4 linked regions of the Homo sapiens genome follow. The protein of the gene in region 1 purifies or fractionates together with the protein of each later gene. This does not show direct contact. Each region holds a gene or a part of one and is shown in the gene's direction. Other genes may lie near its edges. The genes, in order: IL13RA2, PHLDB3, MELK and SDK2.

Evidence for each region.
Region 2: the proteins of IL13RA2 (region 1) and PHLDB3 purify together in Homo sapiens (affinity purification with mass spectrometry; 2 studies listed by BioGRID and IntAct, with this or other methods). This does not show direct contact.
Region 3: the proteins of IL13RA2 (region 1) and MELK purify together in Homo sapiens (affinity purification with mass spectrometry; 2 studies listed by BioGRID and IntAct, with this or other methods). This does not show direct contact.
Region 4: the proteins of IL13RA2 (region 1) and SDK2 purify together in Homo sapiens (affinity purification with mass spectrometry; 2 studies listed by BioGRID and IntAct, with this or other methods). This does not show direct contact.

The regions. Positions count from the first base shown.
Region 1 is NC_000023.11:115,014,603-115,022,446, reverse strand, and holds the start of IL13RA2 (interleukin-13 receptor subunit alpha-2 precursor), read left to right. Parts: upstream 1-4,830; 5' UTR 4,831-4,894; intron 4,895-5,144; 5' UTR 5,145-5,177; coding exon 5,178-5,271; intron 5,272-6,625; coding exon 6,626-6,777; intron 6,778-7,844. UniProt on the Homo sapiens protein: Cell surface receptor that plays a role in the regulation of IL-13-mediated responses. Functions as a decoy receptor that inhibits IL-13- and IL-4-mediated signal transduction via the JAK-STAT pathway and thereby modulates immune responses and inflammation.
Region 2 is NC_000019.10:43,501,735-43,508,867, reverse strand, and holds the start of PHLDB3 (pleckstrin homology-like domain family B member 3), read left to right. Parts: upstream 1-4,121; 5' UTR 4,122-4,279; intron 4,280-4,719; exon of another isoform or gene 4,720-4,735; 5' UTR 4,736-4,749; coding exon 4,750-4,962; intron 4,963-6,584; coding exon 6,585-6,767; intron 6,768-6,996; coding exon 6,997-7,133. Other genes in the region: ETHE1 (persulfide dioxygenase ETHE1, mitochondrial), read left to right, coding at 4-93, 808-924, 1,966-2,018.
Region 3 is NC_000009.12:36,568,435-36,575,908, forward strand, and holds the start of MELK (maternal embryonic leucine zipper kinase), read left to right. Parts: upstream 1-4,460; 5' UTR 4,461-4,573; exon of another isoform or gene 4,574-4,764; intron 4,765-7,474. UniProt on the Homo sapiens protein: Serine/threonine-protein kinase involved in various processes such as cell cycle regulation, self-renewal of stem cells, apoptosis and splicing regulation. Has a broad substrate specificity; phosphorylates BCL2L14, CDC25B, MAP3K5/ASK1 and ZNF622.
Region 4 is NC_000017.11:73,333,877-73,340,460, reverse strand, and holds the end of SDK2 (protein sidekick-2 precursor), read left to right. Parts: intron 1-1,520; coding exon 1,521-1,874; 3' UTR 1,875-2,006; coding exon of another isoform or gene 2,007-2,092; 3' UTR 2,093-6,077; downstream 6,078-6,584.

The DNA.
Region 1 (7,844 bases):
TAATAAATAATTGTCTTTGCAAATTGGTCACTGCCTTTACAATAAAATAAAACAAAAAACATATGGTCATTTTGGATACTGTAGAAGAATCTTTTTTTCCTTTGTCAACATAGAGAAAGAACATTTCTAAAAGACCATGTTATGTATTATTAGCCTAGCAATGTTTTTCTGTCTCTTCCTTCTTTTTCCTATCCTTTCTGTATAGATTGTATCAGCTGTGGGGCACTGTGCTAGTCATATCACTTCTCTAAGCCCCAGTTTTACTGTTTGTAAACATGCAGTACAAACCTTATACACTTACAGACCTGTTAAAAAATAAACAAATTCTTTACAAACTACAAAAAGCTAAACAAACGAAAGAAATTACTGTTATTATGGCAAAGATCAGTAAAGGCAGCATATTGGATCAACAAGGGTGGTAGAAATTGGAAATTAATAATAAGTGTCTAATTATCTACTATGAACAAGTTTATTTTGCTGAATTAATAAAGGCAAATGTGTAGGATGTGGTAAGTTATTTTCAAGTGTTGCTTAGTGGCAGTGTCCTCAGAAGCAAACCCCTCTCAAGTATATAGAGCAATTTACTATTCTTCTAGCACTTTCACATACATTATCTTATTTAATCTTCAAGACACCCCTGCCAGGCTTGTATCATTACCTCCATTTTATAGATACAAATTGAGATATAATTTACCTCTTATCACAGTGGTTGAGGCAGGAGTGAAATCCAGATTGATACTTACACCGTTGTGTCTTTTATTATAAAAAGCTCCTCGGCTATGTATCTGTTACTTTATCCAAAGAATAGTTGGTCCTGCCAGCTTTTACAGCACCTTGGTATAATTCCAAATTTGCTTTAGATGGCTTTTGGCCTCACCCATAACTTCCCCATCTTGTGGCTTGTAGAATCTGTGTCCTGGCCCTGTGACTGTTTCAGGAATACCTAACTAATATTTTCTACGTGCTTGATTATTAGGCAGGAAAGTATTAGAGATTCTAATTAATGTCTCTAAAGTAGAGAGGAGAACAAAAGAGGACCTGTGATAACTGCTTACGTTAATCTATTTCTTGAGAAACCATATGATTGGTAAGTACCTGGAATTTCTCCAATAATGCAAAGATTGCAGCCAGCTGTTAAAGTGAGAGTATTATGTTGCATGACTTTGAAGCGGTGGAGAAGCGAGGCCGAGAAGAGGCAATCACTTTAGGTTTGCCATTCCAAAGGAGATTCTCAGTGAGAAACTATCTCAAAAGTGTTGTGTAAAACTGAGTGGGTAGAAATAGAAAGCTCCCCTCCACATTGATCTTAGGCATGGAAAATACCTAGTGTAGTGATTACCATCAAGGGCTCTGGTACTAGATTGTCTAGATTTAAATCCAAGTTTCACCATTTATGGTGTGTGACTTGAGGGAAGCCATTTGACTTCTGTATGTCATAGTTTCTGGTCTTTAAAAAGTTAATCTCATAGAGTAGAGAGTAGAATAGAAGTTACCAGAGGCTGGGGAGGGAATAAGGGAGCCGGGATGGGGAAAGGTTGGTGAATGGGTACAATGTTACAGTTAGATAAGAGGAATACATTCTGATTTCTATTGCACAGTAAGGTGAGTATAGCTAACAATAATGAATTGTATTTTTCAAAAGCTAGAAGAAAGGAATTTGAATGTTTTTACCACAAAGAACTGATAAATGTTTGAGGTGATGTATATGCTAATTACCGTGATTTGATCATTACACAACGTTATCCATGTATCAAAACATTACACTGTACCCCACAAATATGTACAATCATTATGTATCAATTAAAAATTAAAGTTAAAAAGAAAATTTAAACAAATAACATAGAACTAAAAATAGTATATATGTCCAAGTCTGATTGTGAGGATTATATGAGATAATGCATATAAATTGCATAGCACAGGGCAGTGCCTGAGATGTTGAATAAATACTAGAAGGTACTATTACTATGACAGATACTATGACTGTTGCCACTTTCACTTTGTGTCTTCTGCAAGATTTAGCTGGGATAGTATCTGGCAAAAAACTTCCAAAGATGCTCAATAAATATTTATTGAATTATTACTCTGTCAGAAATGTCATAATGATAAAACTGTGTGGTGGGCTGGATGGTTTGGGTGGTGACAGTAGGTAGAGGAAGGTTGGGAGTTAGGAAGAGGCTTCTAGTAAAATAGGTGCAGGATAGATTCATTATGATAAGAACATTTATTTGCTAGTTAGTGGAAAGGGTTCAGGAGATATGGTTTTCAATCCCAGCTCTGCCACCAATAAGTTGTGTACACTTGGCTTACTTACCTTCCTCTCTGGCTGTTATTTCCTTATTTTTAAAAATGAGGAGCTAAGACCAGATGAGTGGTTATGAACTGTGGTCTGGGGGTCTGAAATATAGAAAAACAACTTTTTCAAATCTAATATGTCTGCATTTGCTTTTCTAATCTTCCCTTTGTCTTCAGGTCCCCCTGGTCCTTGTGAAAAACTCCGGTGTTCCTGGTAACCACATAGTGTATAAAGCCCCTCATTGCACTAGTGACAATCCTGTAACCCAGAAGCAAAGGAGAGAATTGTCTTTGTGTTCATTTGGGTAAGAAAGTCTTGGTTGGGCCCTAGGTGTAATTCAGCAACTCCTTTTGTGGGTTTATCCATAAGTGATGCTAGAAGCTAGTTATCCCATTTTCCACCTTTGCTTGGGTATATTGATCAGTCTGATCCATGAAATGCTATTTGATAGCCTGAGTCAGATTTCATAGCCTATAAATGGAATAGAAGCAAATGATTTTAAACTCTTTACTTAGCATTTATGCTGTACATGACATAATGCTACGAAATCTTAAAGGACAGATCGATAGGGGAGAGAGAATTTTGTTAGAATCTCTCTGAGAGCATTGTAAGGGCAGCCTGATTGCCCTTAGTCCTTAAAGGTAATATGGAAGGTTTTCTCTTTGTCAGACCTATTGCCCTGATCCCAGTAGTAACCAGTGTGTTCATCTTAATCTCTGAGGGTAGCTCTGTGGAAGATCCATAACCTTCTGTTAGCCAAATCTACCTAGTACTTACAGATGCATTAGTGGGCAGCCATTGGCTGGCAAGTAAAGAGAGAGGAATTGGGGAGAAAGAGAGATTTGTTGGGCCTCAGTGAGAGAAATGACATTCTCTCCTGATTTTATGAGGCGCAGAATTTTTAAAATAACATGGTGTTGATTCAGCTTGGTTTGCTAATTAAAGGAAGATTTAAACACTGGGGTTCCAGAGGAAAAGCGTTCATAATCCTGAGTCATGCCTGTGGGACCCAGCAGAATGGGGTGGAAGTGCACAGGACTGGGCATCATGAGATCTCTGTTCTACTTCCAGCTTTGTTACTAATTTGCTGTGTAATCTTGGGTGGGGCAAGTCTGAGTTTTACTGCCCAATTTATAAAAGAGAATTTGACTAGCCTTGTCTGTAATATACATACTGGTTCTAAAAATTTGATCCTAAGATTCTATAAAGTAGCCATTGAGGCTTACCAAAGTTACAATATTACAGATGGATCAGGTAGGGGGAAGAGGGTGGGGTGGAAGAGAGGGTCTGTCCTATTGAATTAATCTATGCACAAGAAAAGAAGGGCAGTCCCTTCTTTTCTTTTGAGTGACTTTTAATCCTTTACTTTATGTGAAATTGTTGGTTCCAGAATATAGATTCGAAGAGAAGTGTATGGAATTGGGAGTAGTAGTTTTTCCTGAAAAGCAAAGTATTTTTAATTGAGTAGCTATTTGAAGGCATGAATCCTTTAAATTTTGATCATATCCGTCAAGAACCAATATCCAAGAACAGAAAGATGACTAAATTGTATTCTATGGCAATGAAATGCTGTTTTAGTTTAAGAAAGAGATGAAAAGTTCAGATTTGCCCTTTAGAAAGGTCACTCTTGCTGTATATGGTGTGGAAAATGGATCAGAGGCAGGAAAGACTGAATAAGGAGATCCCTGCTAAGATCCTCCATTTAGGAAGTGGTAGTGGTAATGGAGAGATTAGATGGGAGAGGAGTTGAGGAAGACTCCCAGGTTTCTGGTTTGGGCAACTGGAAGGATGGCGATGCCATTTACTAATAAAGGAAACACAGGAAAAAGTGGAACAATAATGAGAGTAGATGGAAATAAAAAATTTTAATTAAAAGAAGTAATTAAAAGAAAAAAGGAGCAAAGAAGAAAGTCAATCGTCCAGCAGGGGGCGAAAGAGCTAAATAAACACTTTTTTTAAACTAAAAAAAGAAATATTTATGAGGAAACAGAGCAAAGTTTTGAACTCTCTGAGGCTTCGGTTTAGGTTCTGAGCTTTCTCAGTGGTCAAATAACTTTCTATTTTATTTTATTTTATTTTATTTATTTATTTAGAGACAGTCTCGCTCTATTGCCCAGGCTGGAGTGCAATGGTGGGATCTTGGCTCACTGCAATCTCCGCCTCCCGGGTTCAAGCCATTCTCCTGCCTCGGCCTTCCGAATAGCTGGGATTACAGGCGCCCGCCACCATGCCTGGCTAATTGTGCATTTTTAGTAGAGAAAGGATTTCACCATGTTGGCCAGGCTGTCTCAAACTCCTGACTTCAGGTGATCCACCCGCCTCAGCCTCCGAAAGTGCTGGGATTACAGGCATGAGCCACCATGCCCGGCCGAAATAACTTTCAAATACTTTTTTCTTTTTCTTTTTTCTTTTTTTCCCCTCAGAAAAGAGTATTTGACTGTGTTTTATGTGTTGCTAGGGGAGACGGTTGCTATGGAGATGGATGATATCATAACTCCATTGTGAACCAGTAAGAACACTCTCGTGAGTCTAACGGTCTTCCGGATGAAGGCTATTTGAAGTCGCCATAACCTGGTCAGAAGTGTGCCTGTCGGCGGGGAGGTGAGGAGCTACAAGGGTTTTTGCTTAGCTTTGTTTTTATTCTTGTAAGCAGGATGAGACTAGAATCCTTTCTTTCCAATTATATTGGTTCCTAACTTGATTATTTCTGTTTCCATGGTCTGAGGTGGACACAGTTTTCCCAGTTCTTGGTAGAGAAGCACACAGAGAGCTTTCCAAAGTATTTTTAATCACGTTTAGTTTGATTATTTGATGTAAGATAAAGTTAAAATGTTATATTTTTCCTTCATAGAGAGGCAATATCAAGGTTTTAAATCTCGGAGAAATGGCTTTCGTTTGCTTGGCTATCGGATGCTTATATACCTTTCTGATAAGCACAACATTTGGCTGTACTTCATCTTCAGACACCGAGATAAAAGGTAAATGGATTTTAATGGAATAGTTTTTAAATTAGGAAAAGTAAAATTAAATGGATTTTAATGGAAAATTAACTGTCTTTTTGACCTGCCTTATGGAAGTGCATAACTAACTAGTAGATGAATTGTTATTGAAACTATTTCAGGAAGTTCATGAAAAAAAGCTATGTTCTTACTAGTCACTTTCTTGTATAAGGTAACTGATGTTGACACACATTTTGTGCGATAAATGCCAAATTAAAAACACTCTCCATACCTTTTTGTATAGTCTTTTTTAACAGATTAAGTATCTGAAACCTCATTGCCTGGTACTAAACTAACTGGAACAGTTCCTTAATTACTATCCTTAGCTACTATCCTTAGCTTTTATGACAATTAGATACATTAAAAAGGTACAGAAATTTAACGTAAAATTTAAAAATAATTAGAATTATTTAATTTTTCAATTATATTATATTATTTAATATAATGTTAATGTTTTATTATTAATTAATTAAAATTATTTATAGTATATTATTATATTATATATTATATTATAATTAATATAATTAAATACATATATTTATATTATAGTGATATGTTAGTTATTATTTGTTATTATTTGTTGTTCTTATTTGTTATTGTTATTGTTAGACAGATTTTTGTAATAAAATGTTCCCATCTTAGACCAAATTCTGGCGTACATGAGCACAGAGATAAAGCCACATTGAATTTTTTGCTTCTCTAAAAATTAATACCTAGTGAGGCAAAGTCACATTTTGCATATGTGATTTCTCAAAGAAGGAACAACTATATAGCAGTAATCTAGATTTTTTTAACAGCCTTACTGAGATATAATTTACACAAAACTAACTCTTTATACAAAACTATATTCTTTAAAACTATACATGTATAGTAAAACTCTTTACTATACGTTGGTTTTTAGTATATTCACAAAGTTGTGCAACAATCACCACTATCAAAGTCCAGAATAGTTGCATCACCCGTAAAACAGCCCCTAAACCCATTAAGCAGTCACCCTGCATTGTTTCTCCCTCCAGCCCCTACCAACCACGAATCTACTTTCTCTCTCTATGAATTTGTCTATTTTGAAATTTCATAGAAATGGAACTATGTCAATATGTGGTCTTTTGTGTCTGGCTTCTTTCAGTTAGTATAATGTTCTCAAGGTTCATCCATGTTGTAGCATGAATCAGTACTTCATGTCTTTTTATGGCTGAATAATATTTGATTGTATGCATGTAGCACATTTTGTTTATCTGTTAATCAATTGGTGCACATTTGGAAGCCATCTAGATTTAGCAATATTTGTCATAAAATACAGAAAAAATAAAAGTGTTTTATTGATTTATTTCAGTTAACCCTCCTCAGGATTTTGAGATAGTGGATCCCGGATACTTAGGTTATCTCTATTTGCAATGGCAACCCCCACTGTCTCTGGATCATTTTAAGGAATGCACAGTGGAATATGAACTAAAATACCGAAACATTGGTAGTGAAACATGGAAGGTAAGTAAAGCATGCATTTGCCGTATCAGAGTGATCATCAGGTGTTACTTTGTGATTCCTGACTTTAGTGTCCGCTCCAATTCCCATATCTCAATAGTTCTAATTAGGATATAAAAAGCTTCCACACCCGCTTCTGTCTCCTATGCATCCTGCTATATCTGTTTTCACCCCATCCAGTGTTAAGATTGCCATTGGAAGAACAAGAAAAAAAACAAAAACAAAAACAAAAAACTCGGTCTCGTGCAATATGAACTTGAAGAGCAGCACTTCACTAGAAGAGCATTTCACTGTATTTTACAATTGCTTATATTCTTGGATGTGGGCCTTATACATGCTACTGACCTGTGACCTTTTCTACTGTAGGAGACAAGGCTTATTTATCTTTGTACCCTTCCCACAGAGGGTCGCAGGATTATGGTTCGTTGTATATATTGTAGTAAGAGCTCAATGAAAATGTTTTGAATTATTAACTACTTATATACTCAACAAGCATGTATATTCAAAGATTTCTGTTGTAGATGACATTCTGTTACCTCTCTAATTCAGCTAGGTAGTTTCAAGAGACAATTCAAATTGAGCATTTATTGATCAACTTTGTGCTGGGCACTCTACTAGGTATCAGGAATATATGAATAAATAATAAATGATTTTTGTCCTCCAGAAGCTCATGATTTGTCTGTATTTTTCTGGTTACTTCCAGGGTTTTAGTTTATGTATTTCTTGAAGGTTTCATATTATATTTTGAAATGTGGCATGATTTGCCAAGTAATGTGCCTATGGTATATGAAAATTATCTATTTGATTCCAAGCAGATATAGCTCAAGTTTCTGCCATAAAGTTTTTTTTCCCTTCCAAAAGTTTTTGTTTTTATTTGGAATTAGATGTTAAGATTCAAATGATCTCATAAAATGATATGACATACAGAGGTGAGCTCTGCTGGAAATGTATCTGTGGCATTGTATCAAATAGTCTCTAGGATTGTCTTAGATATTGGGAACTCTCCAGGGTATTAATGATTTATTAGTCTTATTAATATAGCTCACTATACCATGGAGGTTTCTAAGCTT
Region 2 (7,133 bases), on another chromosome or scaffold:
CAGGCTGTGCCAAGACCTTGTACCACTCGGTCCATGAAAAGATCTTCACACTTCCAGGAGACTGTCTGATCTACCCTGCTCACGATTACCATGGTGAGGGCTTCCTGGAAGAGGTGTGGGGCGTACATAACTTTGAAAGTGGAGTGTAAATCTCTGTAATCCTTGTAGGGCATGAAGACGACCAGTCTCAGAAATTTCTCTGGCCAAAAAAAATTAAGTGTTTGAGGCTGGGCAAGGGGGCTCACACTTGTAATCCTAGCACTTTGGGAGGCCAAGGCAGGAGGCTCATTTGAGCCCAGGAGTGAGTTCGAGACCAGCTGGAGTAACATGGCAAAACCCTGCCTCTACAAAATACAAGAAATTAGCCAGGCATGGTGGCATGCTGCCAGCTACTTGGGAGGCTGTGGTAGAAGGATTGCTTGAGCCTGGGAGGTTGAGGCTGCAGTGAGCTATGATTGTACCACTATATTCCAGCCTGGGTGACACAGCAAGCCCCTGTCTCAAAAAAAAAAAAAAAAAAAGAGATAAAGTGCTTGAGCCTGCTGTGTGTGGATGTAGAAACTATGTGACTGCCAGATGCCTAGAATTCTGCAGGGCATGGGTTTTCCTGGGCCTTACTTGTGGAGCTTAGGGAACTGGGGGAAAACTAAATTTCCCATAGTGTCCATGGAGGAGGGAAAGCAATTTTAGGAATATTCTGGGAAGAGCCCCTGCCAGAGAGGCACCCAAGGCCTCCTGGGGAATGTAGTTCTGAGAGGCCTGAGGCACTAGACTCCTTGACTTTCCTTCCCCTCCCTTGGCCCCTAGGGTTCACAGTGTCCACCGTGGAGGAGGAGAGGACTCTGAACCCTCGGCTCACCCTCAGCTGTGAGGAGTTTGTCAAAATCATGGGCAACCTGAACTTGCCTAAACCTCAGCAGATAGGTGAGCAGCTGGGGACCTGGACTTCTGGGTCTGAGAGAGGAGGGGCTGGGGTCTTGGACTCCTGGGTCTGAGAGAGGAGGGGCTGGGGGCCTGGACTCCTGGGTCTGAGGGAGGAGGGGCTGGGGGCCTGGACTCCTGGGTCTGAGGGAGGAGAGGCTGGGGGCCTGGACTCCTGGGTCTAAGGGAGGAGGGGCTGGGGGACTGGACTCCTGGGTCTGAGGCAGTAGGGGCTGGGGGCCTGGACTCCTGGCTCTGAGGGAGTAGGGGCTGGGCTGGGGGCCTGGGCTCCTGAGTCTGAGGGAGGAGGGGCTGGGGGCCTGGGGTCCTGGGTCTGAGGGAGGAGGAGCTGGGGGCCTGGACTCCTGGGTCTGAAGGAGGAGGGGCTGGGCTGGGGGCCTGGGCTCCTGGGTCTGAGGGAGGAAGAACTGGGGGCCTGGACTCCTGGGTCTGAGGGAGGAGGAACTGGGGGCCTGGACTCCTGGATCTGAGGGAGGAGGGACTGGGGACCTGGGCTCCTGGGTCTGAGGGAGGAGGGACTGGGGGAGGAGGAGCTGGGGGCCTGGACTCCTGGGTCTGAGGGAGGAGGGACTGGGGACCTGGGCTCCTGGGTCTGAGGGAGGAGGGGCTGGGGGCCTGGACTCCTGGGTCTGAGGGAGGAGGGGCTGGGGGTCTGAACTCCTGAGTCTGAGGGAGGAGGGGCTGGGGGACTGGACTCCTGGGTCTGAGGGAGGAGGGGCTGGGGGACTGGACTCCTGGGTCTGAGGAAGGAAGGGCTGGGGGACTGGACTCCTGGGTCTGAGGGAGGAGGGGCTGGGGGTCTGGGCTCCTGGGTCTGAGGGAAGAGGGGCTGGGGGTCTGGACTCCTGGGTCTGAGGGAGGAGGGGCTGGGGTACTGGACTCCTGGGTCTGAGGGAAGGAGTGGGCTCAGGACCAAAACTCTAGTTTCCTGAAGAGGAAAGGTTCCTAGGATTTCTGGGTCTCCAGTGGGGCCTGGAACTCTACCTAGGCCCCTTAGTTTTAACCTTGATTTCTTCCTTTCAGACTTTGCTGTTCCAGCCAACATGCGCTGTGGGGTGCAGACACCCACTGCCTGATCTCACTTCTGTCAGATGCTCCCATCCACTATTAATGCACTAGGTGGGAGGAGAGGGCGGCAATGACACTGCACCTCTCCTTTCCCACCGCATTCCCTGGAGCTCCCTAAATAAAACTTTTTTTAACGTGAGTCTGACTTCTACCTATTTTCTGGGGGAACCAATTGGGTTTCTGGGCCGAAAGGGGTGGGGTTCTGGTCCTATGGAGAGGCCAGGGAGCCTGCAAGATTTGTTTTCTTTTTCTTTTCTTTTTTTTTTTGAGATGGAGTCTCCCTCCATTGCCCAGGCTGGAGTGCAGTGGCACGATCTCGGCTCACTGCAACCTCTGCCTCCCGGGTTCAAGCGATTCTCCTGCATCAGCTTCCCAAGTAGCTGGGACTACAGGCGCGTGCCACCATGCCCGGCTAATTTTTTCATATTTTTAGTAGAGACAGGGTTTGACCATGTTAGCCAATATGATCTTGATCTCCTGACCTCGTGATCCACCAGCCTCGGCCTCCCAAAGTGCTGGGATTACAGGTGTGAGCCACCGCGCCCAGCCCGGGAGCCCACAAGATTTCTAACTCACAAGATCAAAAACAAACACAGCTATCTGGGGCAGGTCTTCTCATCACCTTGGATTAGAACACCGGCTTGCTTTTGAGCCACTTCCCACTTAGCCCTGGGGTAAGTTACTTCACTTCTCTAGGCCTCAGTTTTCTTATCTCTAAAATGGAAGGAATAATAATGGGGTGTTGTGATGCTCTGATGAGTCAATGTGTGTGAGTGCCTGGCACATGGCCTATCAGTGTTCACCATTAAAGTTACTATCATTTAGAATGATCTTTTGGGTACTTCCTGGCTTGTAGTGACAGTATACGCAATGGTTAAGAACATGGACTTTTGAGAGAATGAAGCCTGCATTTTACCACTTACAACATGTGTAGATGTTGGCTACATTTTTTTTTTTTTTTCTGAGATGGGGTCTTACTCTGTCGCCCAGGCTGGAGTGCAGTGGCACATTCAAGACTCACTGCAGCCTCGACCTCCTGGGCTCGAGATATCCTCCTGCCTCAGCCTCTGGAGTAGCTGAGATGACAGGTGTGTGCCACCACGCCTGGCATAATTTTTGTATTTTTAGTAGAGATGGGGTTTCTCCATGTTGCCCAGGCTGGCCTTGAACTCCTGATCTCAAGCAATCCACCTGCCTCGGCTTCCCAAAGTGCTGGGATTACAGGCCTGAGCCTCTGTGCCCAGCCAACCTTGGGTGCATTTGTCCTCCTCAGCTTGTATCCCCAAGTGTAAAATGGAGATAGTAGGCCAGGAGCGGTGGCTCACGCCTGTAATCTCAACACTTTGGGAGGCTGAGGCAGGCAGGTTGTTTGAGCCCAGGAGTTCAAGATCAGCCTGGGCAACCTGGAGAAACCCAGTCTCTACTAAAAAAAAAGAAATGGAGGTAGTAATCACTTTCTCGCTGGACAGCTTTGAGGGTGAAATTAAATGACTGGGTATAAAGTGTTTCACACAGCTCTTGACTTCTAATCATCCCTTTTCATATACCAGTTATTTTCCTGTTTTCATTTTCCTGTTTTCGCCCAGAGAGGAAAGGGTCTGGCTGAGACCTTTAACCTCTGCCCTCCACCCCATAGCAAAGTTGTGGGGGGGTGGCGGTACACTTCCCTCAGTCTCTGGGCAGGTGTCTGACTCAGTTCAGGGCACCCCTTCCCCTTGTCCAGCTCCCCAAACCGGTCAGGGCCCTTCTGAAGGGCTCATTAGAGGGGAGACGTCCCCATCTCCATTCCTGCCTTCCTTTCTGAACTCCCAAGGTCTGGACATTAGAGAGGCTCCCATACAGAGGTGGCCAAGACTCCTCCAGGGGGGCAGGAATGAGGGGCTCGAGGGAGACTGGGAGGTCGCGATGCTGAGTTCCACGAGGGTGGGGCCGGGCCGGGGCCGGTGGGGCCGGGATGGCCGGATGCCGAGGCCACGGGTGGGGCAAGCCCGTGGCTCCCTCCTCCCTCGGGAGCTGTTGGACCTGTTGTCCCCCCTCCACTTCCGGGCTGCTGGGGAGGGGGACCGGGCGGCCTCTCTCCTCCCTCTTCCCCTGCCACCTGTCTCATAGGCAGAAGCGGCCGTGCCCAGCGCGCAGAGCGGAGCGCGCCGAAGCCTGAGCTCGTGAGGGGGCCGAGGCTGTGGGGAGGTGGCAGTTGGACTTCGGAATCTCAAGGACTCCGACTCCTGGCTTGTTCAGAGAAGGAGAGCCCCGACTCCTGGATCCCTGGGTGAGGCGGCGTGGGCACGGTTGCCCTGCACAGTGGGGTCGGGACTAAGACTACGGGGCTCCGGGAAGGATGGGGCGGGAGCCGAACTGCTGAGTCTCGGAGGGAGAAGATGGGTCGCTCTAAGCGAATCCAAGAGATTGTAGGGGGCTGCTGGGAGGGTACAAGGCCTGACACCTAGAGATGAGGGAGGGGAGGCGGGGTCGAAGAGGTCAGTAGGGGGCGTGCTACGACCCGGACTCAAATTCCGGTCCCGTCTCCGGTGGCGTGTCGCCTTGGAGCCATCAAGCCCCGCCTCTGGAAACTTCAGGACACGCCTCCGTAACGCTCAGTTCCATCCTTTGAACTCTTAGGCCCCGCCTCCTTGGGGGGGGGTCTCCGCGCCCCGGAGCAGACGCGAGCGGCGCTCAGCCGTCCTAGGCCCCGCCCCCGGAGCTTCTGGTCCCGCCCACCCCGCAGGAGTCCCAGCGGCCATGGGGACGCGAAGCAGCCCCGAGGAGGGGACCCCGCCGCCGCTGGTCCCGGAATGCGACGTGGAGGTCCAGCCCCAGGGCCATCCCGAGGAGTCCCGGGAACAGGAGGCATCCGAAGTCCTGGCGGAACCTTCGAGCCGCGGGGGAGCTGAGCAGCAGGCAGAGGAAGAAGAAGTGGGAGAAGGCAGCAGCACTGAGAGCAGCCGCGACGCGGTGAGGGGCCCGAGGGCGACAGCGCGGGGGGCTTGGACCGACGGGGACCCAAACAGGTGGCCAGACAGGTAGACAGGTAGAGGGAAACCAGAAAGACAGAGACCCGGAGACAGGGAGAGAGACCGAGTGATAGCAGAGACTACTGAGAGAGAGATACACCAGGACACGGAGCCAGAGAGGCAGAGGCACAGACAGACAGAAACCAGATACAGAGACAGAAACCAGATAGAGCCACGGGGAGGCCCCAAGAACGGAGATAGACCCAAACGGGCGACAGAGACAGAGAGACTAGTATAGAGGAACCAGATAGGTGGCTCACGCCTGTAATCCCAGCACTTGGGGAGGCCGAGGGGAGGATTGCTTAAGCCCAGGAGTTCGAGACAAGTCTGGGCAACATAGCAAATCCCTGTCTCTAGAGAAAAAAAAAATACAAAAATTGTCCAAGCGCAGTGCCGCGTGCCTGTAATCCCAGCTACTCGGGAGGCTGAGGCAGGAGGATCGCTTGAGCCCAGGAGTTGTAGGCTGCGGTGAACTATGACTGCGCCACTGCACCCCAGCCTGGGACAAAGCAGAACCTATCTCTAAAAATGAGAGAGAGAGAGAGAGAGAGAGAGAGAGAGAGAGACCAGATAGACAGACAGGAGAGACTACAGAACAGAGAGAACCAAACGAGTAAGAGATGCAGAGAGATCAAGAAGCCAGACAGAGACCCAGAGACATGGAGACTGAGAGACAAAGACCCCAAAAAGACAGAGACACAGTGAGACTAGAGTCAGAGAGAGGGGAATCGAGACAGAGGGAAACCCAGAAATAAATGGCAGAGATGCTCAGAGAAACAAATAGACAAAAACCTCGAGAGAGGGACATACTCCGAGGAAGAAAGATCTAGTGATTCTAGTGGACAGATCTAGTGGACAGATACCGAATCTGAGAGACTGGGGTCAGGTGGAGAGACAGAGACAGATCCAGGCACTACAAGAAAGTGACGCCAAGAGAATAGGACCTGATAGAGAAAAAGAAACACCTTTCATAAGTCGGCTTTACACCTGCTCACCCTCCATACGGTACTGCAAGCCTCTGTGGTCCGTGTGGTTGGGTGGTCACGGGACTTGCACCCTCCCCCACTCCGACCTTAAATACAGGGGTCTGAGGCCGGGCGCGGTGGCTTATGCCTGTAATCGTAGCACTTTGGGAGGCCGAGGTGGGAGAATCCCTTGAGCCTAGGAGTTTGAGACCAGCCTGGGCAACATAGCATCGCCCCCTCTCTGCCAAAAAAAAAAAAAAAAAAAAAGAGCTTGGCGTGGCGGTGCGCGCCTGTAGTCACAGCTACCTAGGAGGATGAGGCAGAAGAATCGCTTGAGCGAGGGAGGTCGATGCTGCAGTGAGCCGTAATCGCGCCACTGCACTCCAGCCAGTGAGACCCTATCTCAGGACAAAAAAAAAAAAAAGATAAGAAAGAAAAAGAAAAGAGCCTGCGACAGATTATGGGAGTGGTGGTTGTGTTAGGTAAGTGGACTGATGGACTGAGACCCGCAGAGGGTGATGTTGGGTGGGGACCAGACCTACTTAGTGATTGCAGGGGGCGAGGCATCTCCACTTAACCACGCCCCCCTCAACTTCAGCCCGAGGCTACGCCTCCGATAGCTATGGCGGCCACACCTCCCGCATCCACCTCTTCGCGGGAAGGGGTGCGAGGGGCGGCGCGGCGCCTGCAAGGACAGCAGCTGGAGGCATTGACTCGTGTGGCCCTGATGGAGCAGCGAGTGAAGGAGCTACAGCGCCAGAGGAAGGAGCTGAGGATCGAGGTGAGGCTGCGGACCCCTTGGGAAGCCTGGCCCCAACTCAAGCGGAACCCGCAAAGCCGGACTCCCAGCTTTTTCCTCGGGTGGGATCAGATTTTAGGCCCTCCGCTCTTCCTCCCTCCAAATTCAGGTCCCTGGAGTCCATCCTCCCTTCGAATCCGGTAGTTCAGGCCCTGGGCCTCTTCCTTGGACCTAGGCGTCCGAGCCCCCAGCCCTGGCATTCTCTCCGCAGATGGAGGTGGAGGTGGCCTTGCTGCGGGGTGAGCTGGCTGGGGAGCGAGTGGCCGCTCGCCGGGAGGAGGAGCAGCTGCGGGAGCTGCTGGAGCAGCAGGCGGCCTCGGAGCAGCGCGGCCGCCAGCAGCGGGAACA
Region 3 (7,474 bases), on another chromosome or scaffold:
CCGCAACTTCTGCCTCCTGGGTTCAAGTGATTCTCCTGCCTCAGCTTCCCAAGTAGCTAGGATTACAGGCATGCGCCACCATGCCTGGCTAATTTTGTATTTTTAGTAGAGATGGGGTTTCACCGTGTTGGTCAGGCTGGTCTTGACGCCTAACCTCGTGATCCGCCCACCTCTGTCTCCCAAAGTGCTGGGATTACAGGCGTGAGCCTGCACAGCGGACCAGAGATCTTGATGCTCTTCTTGTAACTGTTTTAGGGTACCATGAACTATACCCGTAATTAGACTGCAAACTTAATTGATAAATATTGTGTGTGTTCTGACTGCTTCACTGGCTGATTGTTCCCCGTCTCTTTCCCTCTCCTCAGGCGTTCCTATTCCCTGAGACACAACAATGTTGAAATTAAGCCAATTAATAACCCTACAATGGCCTCTAAGTGTTCAAGTGAAAGGAAGAGTCACACATCTGTCACTTGAAATAAAAATCTAGAAATGATTAAGCTTAGTGAGGAAGGCATGTCCAAAGCTGATAGGCTGAAAGGGAGGCCTCTTGTGCCAAATAATTAGCCAAATTGTGAATGCAAAGGAAAAGTTCTTGAAGAAAATTAAAAGTGCTACTCCACTGAACACATGAGTGATAAGAATGCGAAACAGCCTTACTGCTGATAGATAGTAGTCTGGATAGAAGATCAAACCAGACACAAAATTCCTTGAGCCAAAGCCTAATCCAAAGCAAGGCCACAATTCTCCTCAATTCTGTGAAGGCTAGGAGAGGTGAGGAAACTGCAGAAGAAAATTTGGAAGCTAGCAGAGGTCGGTTCATGAGATTTAAGGTAAGAAGCTGTAGGCTGGGTGCAGTGGCTCACGCCTGTACTCCCAGCACTTTGGGAGGCCGAGGCGGGCAGATCAACTGAGGTCAGGAGTTTGAGACCAGCCCAACCAACATGGAGAAACATCGTCTCTACTAAAAATACAAAATTAGCTGGGCGTGGTGGTGCATGCCTGTAATCCCAGCTACTTGGGAGGCTGAGGCAGGAGAATCACTTGAACCTGGGAGGGCGAGTTTGCGGCGAGTTTGCGGCGAGCCGAGATGGCGCCATTGCACTCCAGCCTGGGCAACAAGAGCGAAACTCCGTCTCAAAAAAAGAAAAAAAGTTGTCTCTGTAATATAAACGTGCGCAGTGAAGCAGCAAGTGCGGATGTAGAAGCTGCAGCAAGTTATACAGAAGATTTGGCTAAGATCATTGATGCAGGTGGCTCCACTGAATAACAAATTTTCAATGTAGAGGAAATAGTTCTAGGTTGGAAGAGGAGCCATCTAGAACTTTCTTAGCTAAAGAGAAGAAGTCAATGCCTAGCTTCAAATCTTCAAAGGACAGGTTGACTCTCTTGTTAGGAGCTAACGCAGCTGGTGACTTGGAGTTGAAGCCAGTGTGCATTTGCCAGTCTGAAAATCCCGGAGCCCTTATGAATTATGCTGAATCTACTCTGCCTATGCTCTATAAATGGAACAACAAAGCCTAGATGACAGTATAACTGTTTATACTAGGGTTTACTGAATATCTTTTTTGTTTGTTTGTTTGTTTTTTTGAGGCAGGGTCTCACTCTGCCACCCATGCTGGAATGCGGTGACGTAATTATAGCTTACAGTAACCTCGAACTCTTGGGCTCCAGTGATCCTCCTGCCTCAGTCTCCTGAAGAGCTGGTATTACCAGCATATGCCGCCACAGCTGGCTAAGGTTTACTGCATACCTTAAGCCCACTTTTGAGACCTACTTCTAAGAAAAAAAGATTCCTTTCAAAATATTAATGCTCATTGATAATGCCCCTAGTCACCCACGAGCTCTGATGGAGATGTACAAGGAAATGAATGTTGTTTGGATGTCTGCTAACATAACATCCATTCTGTAGGCCATAGATCAAGGAATGATTTTGACTGTCAAGTCATTTTATTTACAAAATACATTTTGTGAGGTTACAGATGCCATAGATAGTGATTTTATGCTGGATCTGGGCAAAGTAAAATGGAAGCCTTCTGGAAAGAATTAACTCTTCTAGATGTCATTAAGAACATTTATGGCCGGGCACGGTGGCTCACGCCTGTAATCCCAGCACTTTGGGAGGCCAAGGCAGGCGGATCATGAGGTCAGGAGATCAAGACCATCCTGGCTAACATGGTGAAACCCCATCTCTACTAAAAATACAAAAAAATTAGCCGGGCATGGTGGTGGGCGCCTGTAGTCCCAGCTACTCAGGAGGCTGAGGCAGGAGAATGGCGTGAACCCAGGAGGCGGAGCTTGCAGTGAGCCGAGACCACGCCACTGCACTCCAGCCTGGGTGACAGAGTGAGACTCCATCTCCAAAAAAAAAAAAAAGAACATTTATGATTAATGGGAAGAGGTCACCATATCAACATTAACAGGAGTTGGGAAGAAATTAATTCCAACCCTCATGGATGACTTTGAGGGGTTCAAGACTTCACTCGTGGAAGTAACTGCAGATTTGGTGGAAACAGCAAGAGAACTAGAATTGGAAGTGAAGCCTGAATATGTGACTGAACTGCTGCAATCTCATGATCCAACTTGAATAGATGGGGAGTTTCTTCTTACGGATGAGCAAAGAGAGAGTGCTTTCTTGAGATGGAAGCTCCTCTTGGTGAAGATGCTGTGATCATTGCTGAAATAACAACAAAAGATTTAGAATATTCCATAAACTTTGTTGATAAGGCAGTGGCAAGATTTCAGAGAACTAACTTTGAAGGAAGTCCTGCTGTGGATGAAATGGTATCACACAGCATCACATGCTACAGAGAAATCTTTCATGAAAGGAAGTGTCCATCGATGCAGCATTGTTGTTTTATTTTAGGAAATTGCCACAGCCATCCCAACGTTTAGCAACCACCACCCTGATCAATCAGCAGCATGGAGGCAAGACCCTCCACCAGCAAAAAGATTATGATTTGCTGAAGATTCAGATGACCATGTTAAATTAAGTTTAGCATAAAGCTGCCTCCTTATGCATTTTAAGTTCAGACTAACAATTTATTTCTTTCTCTCTCTCCCTTTCTCTCCCTTCCTTTCCTTTCCCTTCCCTTCCCTTCCCCTCCCTTCCCCTCCCTTCCCCTTCCCTTCCCCTTCTCTTCCTTTCTTTCTTTTCTCTCTCTCTTTCTCTCTTTCTCTTTTTTTGAGACGGAGTCTTGCTCTGTTGCCCAGCCTGGAGTGCAGTGGCACGATCTCTACTCACTGCAACCTCTGCCTCCCAGCAGAGAGAATCAAGAGATTCTCCTGCCTCTACCTCCTGAGTAGCTGGGATTATAGGCTCGCGCCACCAAGCCCGGCTAATTTTTTGTATTTTTAGTAGAGACAGGGTTTCATCATGTTGGTCAGGCTGGTCTCGAACTCCTGACCCCAAATGATCTGCCCCCGCCCCCCCACCAAAGTGCTGGGATTATAGATGTGAGCCTTTGCACCTGGCCTAACAGTTTCTCCATACATAGTGAATTGTAGACAACTACAATTGTAAATGTGTAAAGAGACTGTAACCTTGTAACAAGTAGCGAGTCTCAGTCAATCACAGCAGCGGAGTTTTGGCCAATCACAGGTGGCCAACTGTTTAAACAGTGCTCAAAATAGTCAGAGGTTGAGTTGCAACCAATCCAGCTGTTTCCATACTTGACTGCAATTTCTGTAAGTCATTTTCCTTTTTCTGTCCATAAATGTTATTTGAACATATGGCAGCCCGAATCACTCTGAACCTATTTTGGTTCCAGGGATTACTGGATTTTGGACTCATTCTTTGGTCAATTCAACTCTGTAAAGTTTAATTTGTCTAAAGATTTTCTGGGCCGGATACAGTGGCTCACGCCTGTAATCCCAGCACTTTGGGAGGCTGAGGCGGGAGGATCGCTTGAGCCCAGGAGTTCGAGACCAGCCTGGCCAACATAGCGAGATCCCGTCTCTACCCACAAATAATTTAGCCAGGCGTGGTGGCGCGTGCCTGTAGTCTCAGCTACTGGGGTTCTTATTCCTCGTGGCAACACATTTTGGAGAGGGGGAGGTATTCCTGTCTTTGCTGGGTGGGAGAACGGCCAGTGGGCAAGGGAGGACGAAAATGAGAACTGTGACTGCCAGAGGGCACGTCAATTTTAGGAAGAGAACGTAAGAAAGTTGGGTTCTGTGGAGACTTGGCATATCCACGCCACCTGGAAAATCATCACGTGCCCTCCGGGGCAAGACCAAGGCCTCAAGTCACCCCTCGCAGCCCAGTGGACCTCCCGGCCATCCCTTTCACGGCTCCACAGCGACCGCGAGCCGTTGCCCCGGTGAGAACCCCCCGGCACTGTGCGCGCCCCCGCCTGCCGTGCGCGTCCGCTTCCCTGGGATCCGGCGCCGCGCGCGCCCCCGCCGCGTCCCCGCCCCTTCCGGCCCGGGAGATTTGATTCCCTTGGCGGGCGGAAGCGGCCACAACCCGGCGATCGAAAAGATTCTTAGGAACGCCGTACCAGCCGCGTCTCTCAGGACAGCAGGCCCCTGTCCTTCTGTCGGGCGCCGCTCAGCCGTGCCCTCCGCCCCTCAGGTCAGTTCTCCCGCCTGCCCGCCGCAGTCGCAGTTGATGGCTGGGGTCTGGGCTGTGCGGGGCGCAGCGGCCCAAACCCAGTTTGCTCCTGGCTCTCGGGAGACTGGAGGATTTCATCGGAGCCCCGCGCTTTACCAGCCCTGTTCCCTGGATAAGATATTTGACCTTTCCGACCCGCGGTTTTCTTCTCCGTAAGTGGGGATAATGACCGTGTCTACTTAACAGGGTTATTGAAGAGGTGTTCAGGCTAAGCGTTTGCCACCTAGGAGGCTGCGATAGACGTGAATTCCCATTTCCCGTTTCCAGTTTCCGTGACTCTTCCCCGCGAAAAAAGTTGACAGAAGGGTTTCGAGTTTTTTCTGTTTGTACAACTCAGTTTACTGGGGCAGTGCAATAAAAAAGGAGATGTGTTATCACTACCTTTTCAGAGTCCAAATCCATCCTCTCCTATCATCTCCCCAGAGTAGTGGCTTCAGAGGCTCACACTAAAAGGGGAATTTTTTTTCTTTTTCTTCAAGACGGAGTTTCGCTCTTGTTGCCCAGGCTGGAGTGCAATGGCGCGATCTCGGCTCACCGCAACCTCCGCCTCCCAAGTTCAAGCGATTCTTCTGCCTCAGCCTCCCGAGTAGCTGAGCTTACAGACATCCGCCACCACGCCCGGCTCATTTTTTGTATTTTTAGTAGAGACGGGGTTTCACCACGTTGGCCAGGCTGGTCTCCAGCTCGTGTCCTCAGGTGATCCGCCCGCCTTGGCCTCCCAGAGTGCTGGGATTACAGGCGTGAGCCACCACGCCCGGCCTAAAAGGGGAATTTTCACCGAATGCTGTATCAGTAATAGGAGCAGCAGGATTGCTCCCACCAAGAAACCTGGTGTAGGGTTGTGGGAGCTGGAAAGGGTAGACTCAGGGAAGGCTGCCCAAGAGAGGAATCAGGTCCCTAGCACTTAGGACGGGTAATTACCTTTGGTATTTCTCCTTTGTTAGTGGAATGAGGTGAGTATCAGGAGCCTGGATTGTTGTTTAGAGGCCAGTGTTCCTAACTTTGGTTTAAATTTTGGTTTCTGTTTCCCATGGAGTCTGGCTAGAAAATCAGAAAAATCAGAAAAGCCCTTACTGGGCCTTCGTGGGCTTGTTTCTCCCAAGGGTCTGTCCTTTCTGTGTAACTACTGTGGACCAACTAGATGGGCAGATCAATCCCAATGAGTGCCTCATTGTTGGTGCTCCCAGAAGCCTTTGCAAGGGAGCAGGGCAGGATGCTAATTAAATGTGTTACAGGCCACATTATAAACCATTCTGAGCCCGGCGTGGTGGCTCACGCTTGTAATCCCAGCACTTGGGGAGGCCGAGGTGGGCGGATCACTTGAGGCCAGGAGTTCTAGACCAGCCTGGCCAACATGGCGAAACCCCGTCTCTACTAAAAATACAAAAAAAAAAAAAAAAAAAAAAATTAACCGGGCATGGTGGCGCATGCCTGTAATCCCAGCAACTGGGGAGGCTGAGGCACGAGCATCTCTGGAACCCAGGAGGCGGAGGTTGCGGTGAGCCGAGATCTAGCTACTGCACTCCAGCCTAGGTGACAGAACGAGACCCTGTCTCAAGCAAATAAACAGACAAAACCCAAAAAACCATTCTGTATTCTACTTCCTGTTTGAAATTATCCTCAGCATCAGTGTCTTTCCAAGCTCTGTAGATAAGGTAAATGTATTTATGCGGCAAGTAATAGAATAGCCCAAATAATATTGTTAAAAAATGCCCCCAATTTGTTGCTATCCTTTAAAATTTAACCATAAACGTCTTCTCATTATCCCAATTCCTTGCTCTTCTGAGAAGTTAAAGACCCCAATTATAGGCCGGGCGCGGTGGCTCACGCCTGTAATCCCAGCACTTTGGGAGGCCGAGGCAGATGGATTGTGAGGTCAGGAGTTCAAGACCAGCCTGGCCAAGATGGTGAAACCCCATCTTTACTAAAAATACAAAAAATTAGCCGGGCGTGGTGGCGCACACCTGTAATCCCAGCTACTTGGGAGGCTGAGGCAGAATTGCTTGAACTCAGAGGGCGGAGGTTGCAGTGAGCCGAGATTACGCCACTGCACTCCAGCCTGGGCAAGAGAGCAAGACTCCGTCTCAAAAACAAAAACAAAAACAAAACCCAATTATATATACCCCCAATTCTTCTATTTATTTAGTCAAGCCCAGAAGGGCACTCAGGTGTCTGATTGGGGTCTAATTTCCTTCTTCATTATTCACAGTTGAGAGGCTGTCTTCCGCGTTGACTGATAATATACCTCCTTCAGCAGCTACAAAGTTGGGTTACTCTGTTCTCAAGGCTTTTCTGTATTCTATATTAACAAACTCTAGAGGATAAACAGGGCACATGAGAATATTTAGAACCAGCTCCACATTCACAAAGATTTACAAATCAAGTATAATCTGCTATTAGTGTAGGAGTTTGTAATGTAAGCACCAGTTTTCTCACATTGCAGCAACAACGATATTCCCTTGATTCAGTAGCTATAATCTAGGCCCACATTGGTATTACTCATCCAAAGACATGATGTAATTTGAGAGAAGCGGGTAGATAGAGAAAATGGAAGAAAGAAAGAAAAAAAAAAGTGCATGGCTTCAGTCTTACCTTAGTTGTTAAATAAACAACTTGCCCATCTCTGCTAGTTTTCCAGAGGCCATGACTGGGATGTTTATAACTCTTTTGGGAGAAGTCTATTAAGTTAATTATGACACTCTTAAATCCCTAATCTGGGAAGTGAATTCCAGCATCTTACAAATTGCTTTCTCTTTCTGAGTGACAATTTGAAATAGCCCAGTCCTTTGCATGGAATGTAAACATGTGCATTCAGATTTATAGTCCAGTGTTCCTCCATTTCCATTCTCCTGCTCTCTTTTT
Region 4 (6,584 bases), on another chromosome or scaffold:
TATTATATGATCCCATTTATAGGAAAGTCCCAAATAAGTTAATCCCTGGAGACAGAAAACAGATTAGTGGTTGCCAGGGGCATGGATATAGGGAGTGACCGGTAGGGGCAGAGATAGGGAGTGACTGCTTCCTGGGTACAAGGTTTTACTTTGGGGTGATGGAAATGATTCAGGGCTGGATAGAAGTGGTGGTTGCACAACACTGCGACGGTCCTAATGCACTGAGTCATAGACTTTAGAATGGTTCACTTTCGGTTATGTGAACCTCACTTCAATTGAAAACAAAGGTAGACTGGGCACGGTGGCCCACGCCTGAATCCCAGCACTTTGAGAGGCCAAGGCGGGTGGATCACCTGAGGTCAGGAGTTCAAGACCAACCTGGCCAACATGGTGAAACCCCATCTCTACTAAAAATACAAAAAATTAGCCAGGCATGGTGGCAGGTGCCTGTAATTTCAACTACTCCAGAAGCTGAGGCAGGAGAATCACTTGAACCGGGTAGGTGGAGGTTGCAGTGAGCCCAGATTGCACCATTGCATCCAGCCTGGGCAACAAGAGTGAAACTGCGTATCAAAAAAAAAAGAAAGAAAGAAAAGAAAACAAAGGTAAGGTAAAGTAGCTCACGCCTGTAATCCCAGCACTTTAGGAGACCAAGGCAGGAGGATCACTTAAGTCCAGGAGTTCTAGACCAGCCTGGGCAACATAAGGAGAGCTCATCACAAGAGAAAAATTTTTTTAAGTTAGTGGGGCGTGGTGGCATGCACCCATAGTCCTGGCTACTCAGAAGGCTGACATGGGAGGATAGCTTGAGCTTAGGAGGTTGAGGCTACAGAGAGGATCACACCACTGTGCTCCAGCCTGGGCAACACAGTGATTCCCTGTGCCCCTTCCACTCCCCGCCCCCCAAAAAAAAGAATAAAAAGGAAAGAAAATAAAATTTGCCAGGGATAGTGGCTGACACCTGTAATCCCAGTACTTTGGGAGGGTGAAGCGGGTGGATCACTTGAGGTCAGGAGTTCAAGACCAGCCTAGCTAACATGGTGAAACCCCTAAACATACCAAAAAAATTAGCCAGGCGTGGTGGCACATGTCTGTCATCCCAGCTACTCAGGAGGCTGAGGCAGGAGAATTGCTTGAACCAGGGAGTCAGAGGTTGGAGTGAGCCAAGATCATGCCAATGTACTCCAGCCTGGCAACAGCGAGATTCTGTCTCAAAAAAAAAAAACAAAAACAAAAACAAAAAAAAACTCAGGTCTTCTGATTCTATCAGGTATCTCCCAGCTCTGGGCCAACCCCATAGTAGATCCTTCCGGTTCCGGATCTGCTGTGAAGGAAGCAGCAGGCGGGCACAAACGGGCACCAGACCCCCTTGGCAGTGAGGGGGCTGGGAGGCCCACAGTCCAAGTCTTGAAAGAGGCAGAGCAGAGTTTTGAACCAGAATGCCCTGTGCCTTCCGGCCCCAACCACAATGGCCTGTCCCTACGGGGCCACTGACACACCCTGATTCTCTGTCCTCCCAGGGAAGTGACAGCGAGTACGAGGTCGACTCAAACCACCAGAAGGCCCACTCCTTTGTCAACCACTACATCAGTGACCCCACATACTACAACTCGTGGCGGCGACAGCAGAAGGGCATCTCGAGGGCACAGGCCTACAGCTACACGGAGAGCGACTCGGGTGAGCCAGACCACACCACCGTCACCAACAGCACCAGCACCCAGCAGGGCAGCCTCTTTCGGCCCAAGGCCAGTCGGACTCCAACGCCCCAGAACCCCCCTAACCCCCCAAGTCAGCAGAGCACCCTCTACCGTCCCCCCAGCAGCCTGGCCCCAGGCTCCCGGGCTCCCATAGCAGGATTTTCATCATTTGTTTGACATCAGAAGAGGAAAAAGCAGAAAGAGAAATGGCACCAAACTCCTCCTTCACCCCTCCTCTCACTGCCTGCCAGAAAACAAAAACACCAAGAAACCAAGTCAACTTTTCACCTCCTGAGTTTATTTTTCCAGAGATTCCAGGGCCAGCAAAGCCGGCGTTCAGAAGGAGGGAGAAAACCGTGAGAGGATGTGTGTGGCCAGCAGCTCTTCAGCTTTGAGATGGTGGGGTTCACTGCTCCCTTGGGAATTACACGGAGCTGGGGAAGTGGCTGTGTCACTGCTATGGACACGGAGTGGGGCGGGCATCTGGAGAGAGAGAGGGAGCGGAGGCTAAGGACTGGAGGCCGCCAGGCAGGCGTGGCCGAGGGAAGAAAAAGCTTCTGGATGTCCAGCCAGCTGCCCCCTTCCAGCCCCTCCAGGACCCCTGGACCCACTGCCGCTGCTCTCTGCAAAAAGAATGGGCATCCCGGAGGCCACGCCTATCTTCTCTCTCTGCTCCTCCTTCCCTCCATGCACCATCACTGTGGCTGGCAGGCATCGGACAGCCTCATCCAGACCCCCTGCCCTGTCTTGGCAACCTCTACTGCCCATCTCCCCTGCTCAACTTCTCCACCAAGCATTTGGTTTATTTAGAAAAAGGAAGAAAAACAAAAAACAAAAAACTAAAGGGTGAGAATTTGCTTAGCGCCTTCCTTGTTCCTGCATATTTTTTAAAATATTGAATCCAAGGAAGAGAGCCCAAGGGTAGGGGAGAAACCCCCCACAACTGACCCCTGCCTCCCTGTGCTGGAATTGACTTTCCTGAGCATGGACAAGGAAAGGTGAAGTCTGGGGAGCAGAGGTGTAAATAAGGCGACTGGCCTTGGCACTGTGGGATGATTAGGTTTAACGCATTGTGGGCAAGATAAGAATGACACTTTGACTGTTCTCTTTCTTCCAATCCAGGTTCCATCCGTCCTCTCTTTAAAGGGGTAGTCAGCTTCCCAAGGCTGGGGAGTGGGGCACAGCTGAGGGATCTCCCTCTGGGCAGACACGTCACTCTCCACTGGATAGATCCTCACCACACACACACACACACACACATCTCCCATGCACTTACAAGGAACAGGGTCTAGGGATCCTCTCCAGAACAAACTCATCTGGGCCCTCCTAGCCAGACAGCACACTCACTTTCAGATCTGTGTCCCTCTCACTGCCACCCGGCAGCCTCCTAAGCACAGAGGCACAGGAGCCCAGAGGGGTGGCCCAAGTCCCTGGTCCAGAGGCTGGAATACCCAGAGTTTGCTCAGTCAGCCTAGCACCCAGTTTACAGGCAAAAAGGCAAAGACACCCTAACCCCCAGTAACAGCTTCCAGGCTGGGCTCCGCCTGGCCAGGGCGGGGAGGGGAAGGGGCAGGTCAGGAAGCTCAGTCCAAAGTGGACCCAGCATTTGAATTGCACGCCCAGCAGGGGCAGGTCAGATGGGACCAAGTGACAAGAATAGCTGATGGGAGGGAATGCTTTTACACACACACACACACACACACACACACATACACATACACAATCTGCTCCAAGGAGTGTTCTGCAAAAAGCCACATCCAGTGGCCAGGATCTTCCCGTCCACTTGGTACTTACGGATGCCAGGGTTTAGGGAGAAGCCTTTCTATCTAACTCCATACATTGTCCAAGGCCCTCTGTGCCCTCAGCCAGCCCTGTAAGGCCAGCCCAACACCTGCCCCACCGCTGAGATGGGTGGCAGATGGCCCACAGGGGCCTGTCTGATTCAGCGTGAGCCCCTTCGTGGAGCAGGGCTCCCTCTGTGCACTGTGTACAGGCGCTGCTGGCCCTGCCCAAGAGATGATGCTCTGTTGGGGTGGGTGAGCAGAGTTCAAGGAAGCCCAAGTAGGAGATTTGGGAAACATGCCAAGGTAAGAGAGAGCCTGGACCACTCTCCTACAGCCCCAAGTCAGTCACTGTGCTAATGGTGACCGGGAAGGGAAGTCAGGGTCTGGGGCCCAAAGAACGGGCACACCCAGCCATGAGTTTTTCCTGAAGCACTTGACCCCTGGGAAATGTGAACGGGGAGATGCTGGAAGATGGCTCAGCAGACAGGCCAGCCCAGCTCCAGTGTCCAAAAAGCGGTTTCTCCAATAAGGAGGCCTGGGAAGGGAAGCACAATCTTCCCCAAAGGAGAACCAAGGGCTGAGGTTCTGCCCCTCCAGGAAGTAAGGTGCTCTCGGGGCCTCCTTGGACTTGTCTGGGGGCTGCAGTGGAGTCAGCTGGACACCTGCTCCACCCCTGCCACCTCCGCCCCCACCCTCTGCAGCATCTGGCATCTCCATGGCAGCACATCTGCAGCTGCCGGCCTGTGATCGTGCCGCACAGCTTTCTTTTCTTTCCTCTCATCTTTTTTTTTTTTTTTTTTTTAAATAACTTCATCCCTTTCCCTCTCTGCTGAGCATTTAACCATTTAAGGAAGTTCCCAGTTTGCATTAGGGAATTATTTAAGCCCAGCCCAGTGAGGGATTATTTGGGAGGAAGCAGGAGTGAGTAAAAACATTGTGTCTGTGTATATATTGCACATGAGGTCAATTTTCCTTTGCCTTTAATGAATCACCTGGTGCACTAAGATATTCCACCCCCCCACTCCCCACACGCTCATTCGCACCCATGCTGACACCTACGTGTACATGCGGGATGGTGCCCATGCACGCCTGTGCTTACACACATGCACACACAAATATGCACAGAACACACATCTGTATGTGTGTTAGCAAAGAGACTCCTGAACTCCCTCTGATGGCTGAAGCCATCTCTCCCCTGTGAGGCACAGGTGGCCTGGGTTGCTTGCACTTGGGGCGTGGCTGGGATCTATTGTCTGAGAGGGTGAGGACACCACGCAAATTTAGACAAGCCCATGAGATCAGGCTGGGCCCATGGTGAAAGTCCCACACTTAGTCAATACCCACTCATCTGGAATATTGTCTCCACAGCCCCAGCCACAGCTGGAAGCCCAGGCCTGCAGCTGTGGAACTCTAGATTTTTTCAGGACACGTCTCTTTGCCCTTGTTTACATATCTACTGGCACAGCCGAGGCTCCCAACCGTCCTCCCAGAAACCTGGCCACATTAGAAAGGGGTGGTGGGCCCTGCCCTTTGTAGAAAGAGTGGGACCCTTTCTGGCCTGTGATTTTCCGTGCCAGTGATGCCAGGGCCCCTGCCTGTGGGACTCCACCCAAAGCAGGTTCACACCAGGACACACCTGGCACCTTTGGCATTGCCTCCTTGTGCCCTAAGCAATCTCCCAGTGTTGCACCCAGGAGCCCATGCTGGGCACACCAGGGCTTTCCCCTTCCTGGCTGCGCCTCCAGAGTTGACGTCAGCTCCACACCCACACTGCCAAGACAAACCAAAAAGATGCTCTGGGCTCCAGAACCACCATCCTCCTAGGGCTCCAGAGAGTTTGCAAACCCAGGCTGCCTCCCCTTCTGTCCATCCCTCACCCCCCGGCCCCCAAAACTCCTACCCCCAAACCTGGCACTGCCGTGATTTAGAGGAAACAAGGACACAGCGGGGGCTGCCCCCACCTGGTGCACGCTGCCTCAAGGCCTTCTGTTGCTGCCCACGCCTCCCTGGGCAGTGCTTCTAAAGGTGCCAGAGCCTCACCACAGTGCCACTCTGGCTGGGCAGGGGCTTCCCTCAGCTTCCCAGAGTGCACATCTGAAGGTGCCTACCCTGGGTGAGGGGCTGGTGGGCAGGAAGGTAAAGGGGAGACCATCTGAGCAGCCGCCACCCGCTCCCCAGTGCCTCTGTATGGCCCTATCCAGGGACACCCATGGGCATGCGCACATGGCAATCCTGACCACCACCTGAGCACAGGTGCCCCCTCGGGACCACCCCCCTTCTCTTTGTTTCCATCAGAATAACCAAAAGCATTTAAACGTGTTACCTTTCTCCATCCATCTAGACTCCAGAAACAAAAATCAACACAAATCTTTATTTTTTGATTTAAAAGATATAACAAAAAATTATGGGGAGAGTATTCATTATGGCAGGTGTCTGTCTGTAAGAAAAAAATATATATCTCTATGTCATATAGCGTGTTAGCAGGTTTATTTTTTAAATGAAAGGTAAGAAAGAAATTGATTTGAAATATATACCACAAGAAGTCCCGTGTCCTGTCAAACTGTCAGTATTTTATAAATAAACTTTTTTTTTTGGAGATTTGAAGCAACATTCTTTTCCTTCCTGTTACATGAATGGGGTCACCTGTCCCAGTATCATACCCAAGCAGTTCATTCCCCAGACAGCAATTTTTAGCCATGCTGTGCTTTTGCAGAGAAGAGTCAAGGGTCTGACTTATCTGCTCTCTTAATGCATAAGTGAGTGCCTTCCAGTGAAATGCACTATTTTATTTATTTTAAACTTTTAGAATAAGAACCTACTTGATGCAATGTGCAAATTATAGTGAATAATAATAATAGCAATAGCTAATATGTCTATGGCATTCACTCTGTGCCAGGCACAGTTCTAATCACTTTACGTTTATTAACTCATGGAATCTTTGCGACAGTCCCAAGGAGGAAACCTGGGACAGGGAGACTTTAAGTGGCTTGCCCTCGGGGAGTGGTGGAGCCAGGATTTGTACTAAAGCCTTCTGGCTCTCAAAACATAATGCTGCCTCTCTGATATTTTAAGGCAAGCTCCTTGTCCATTTTTATTTTAATTT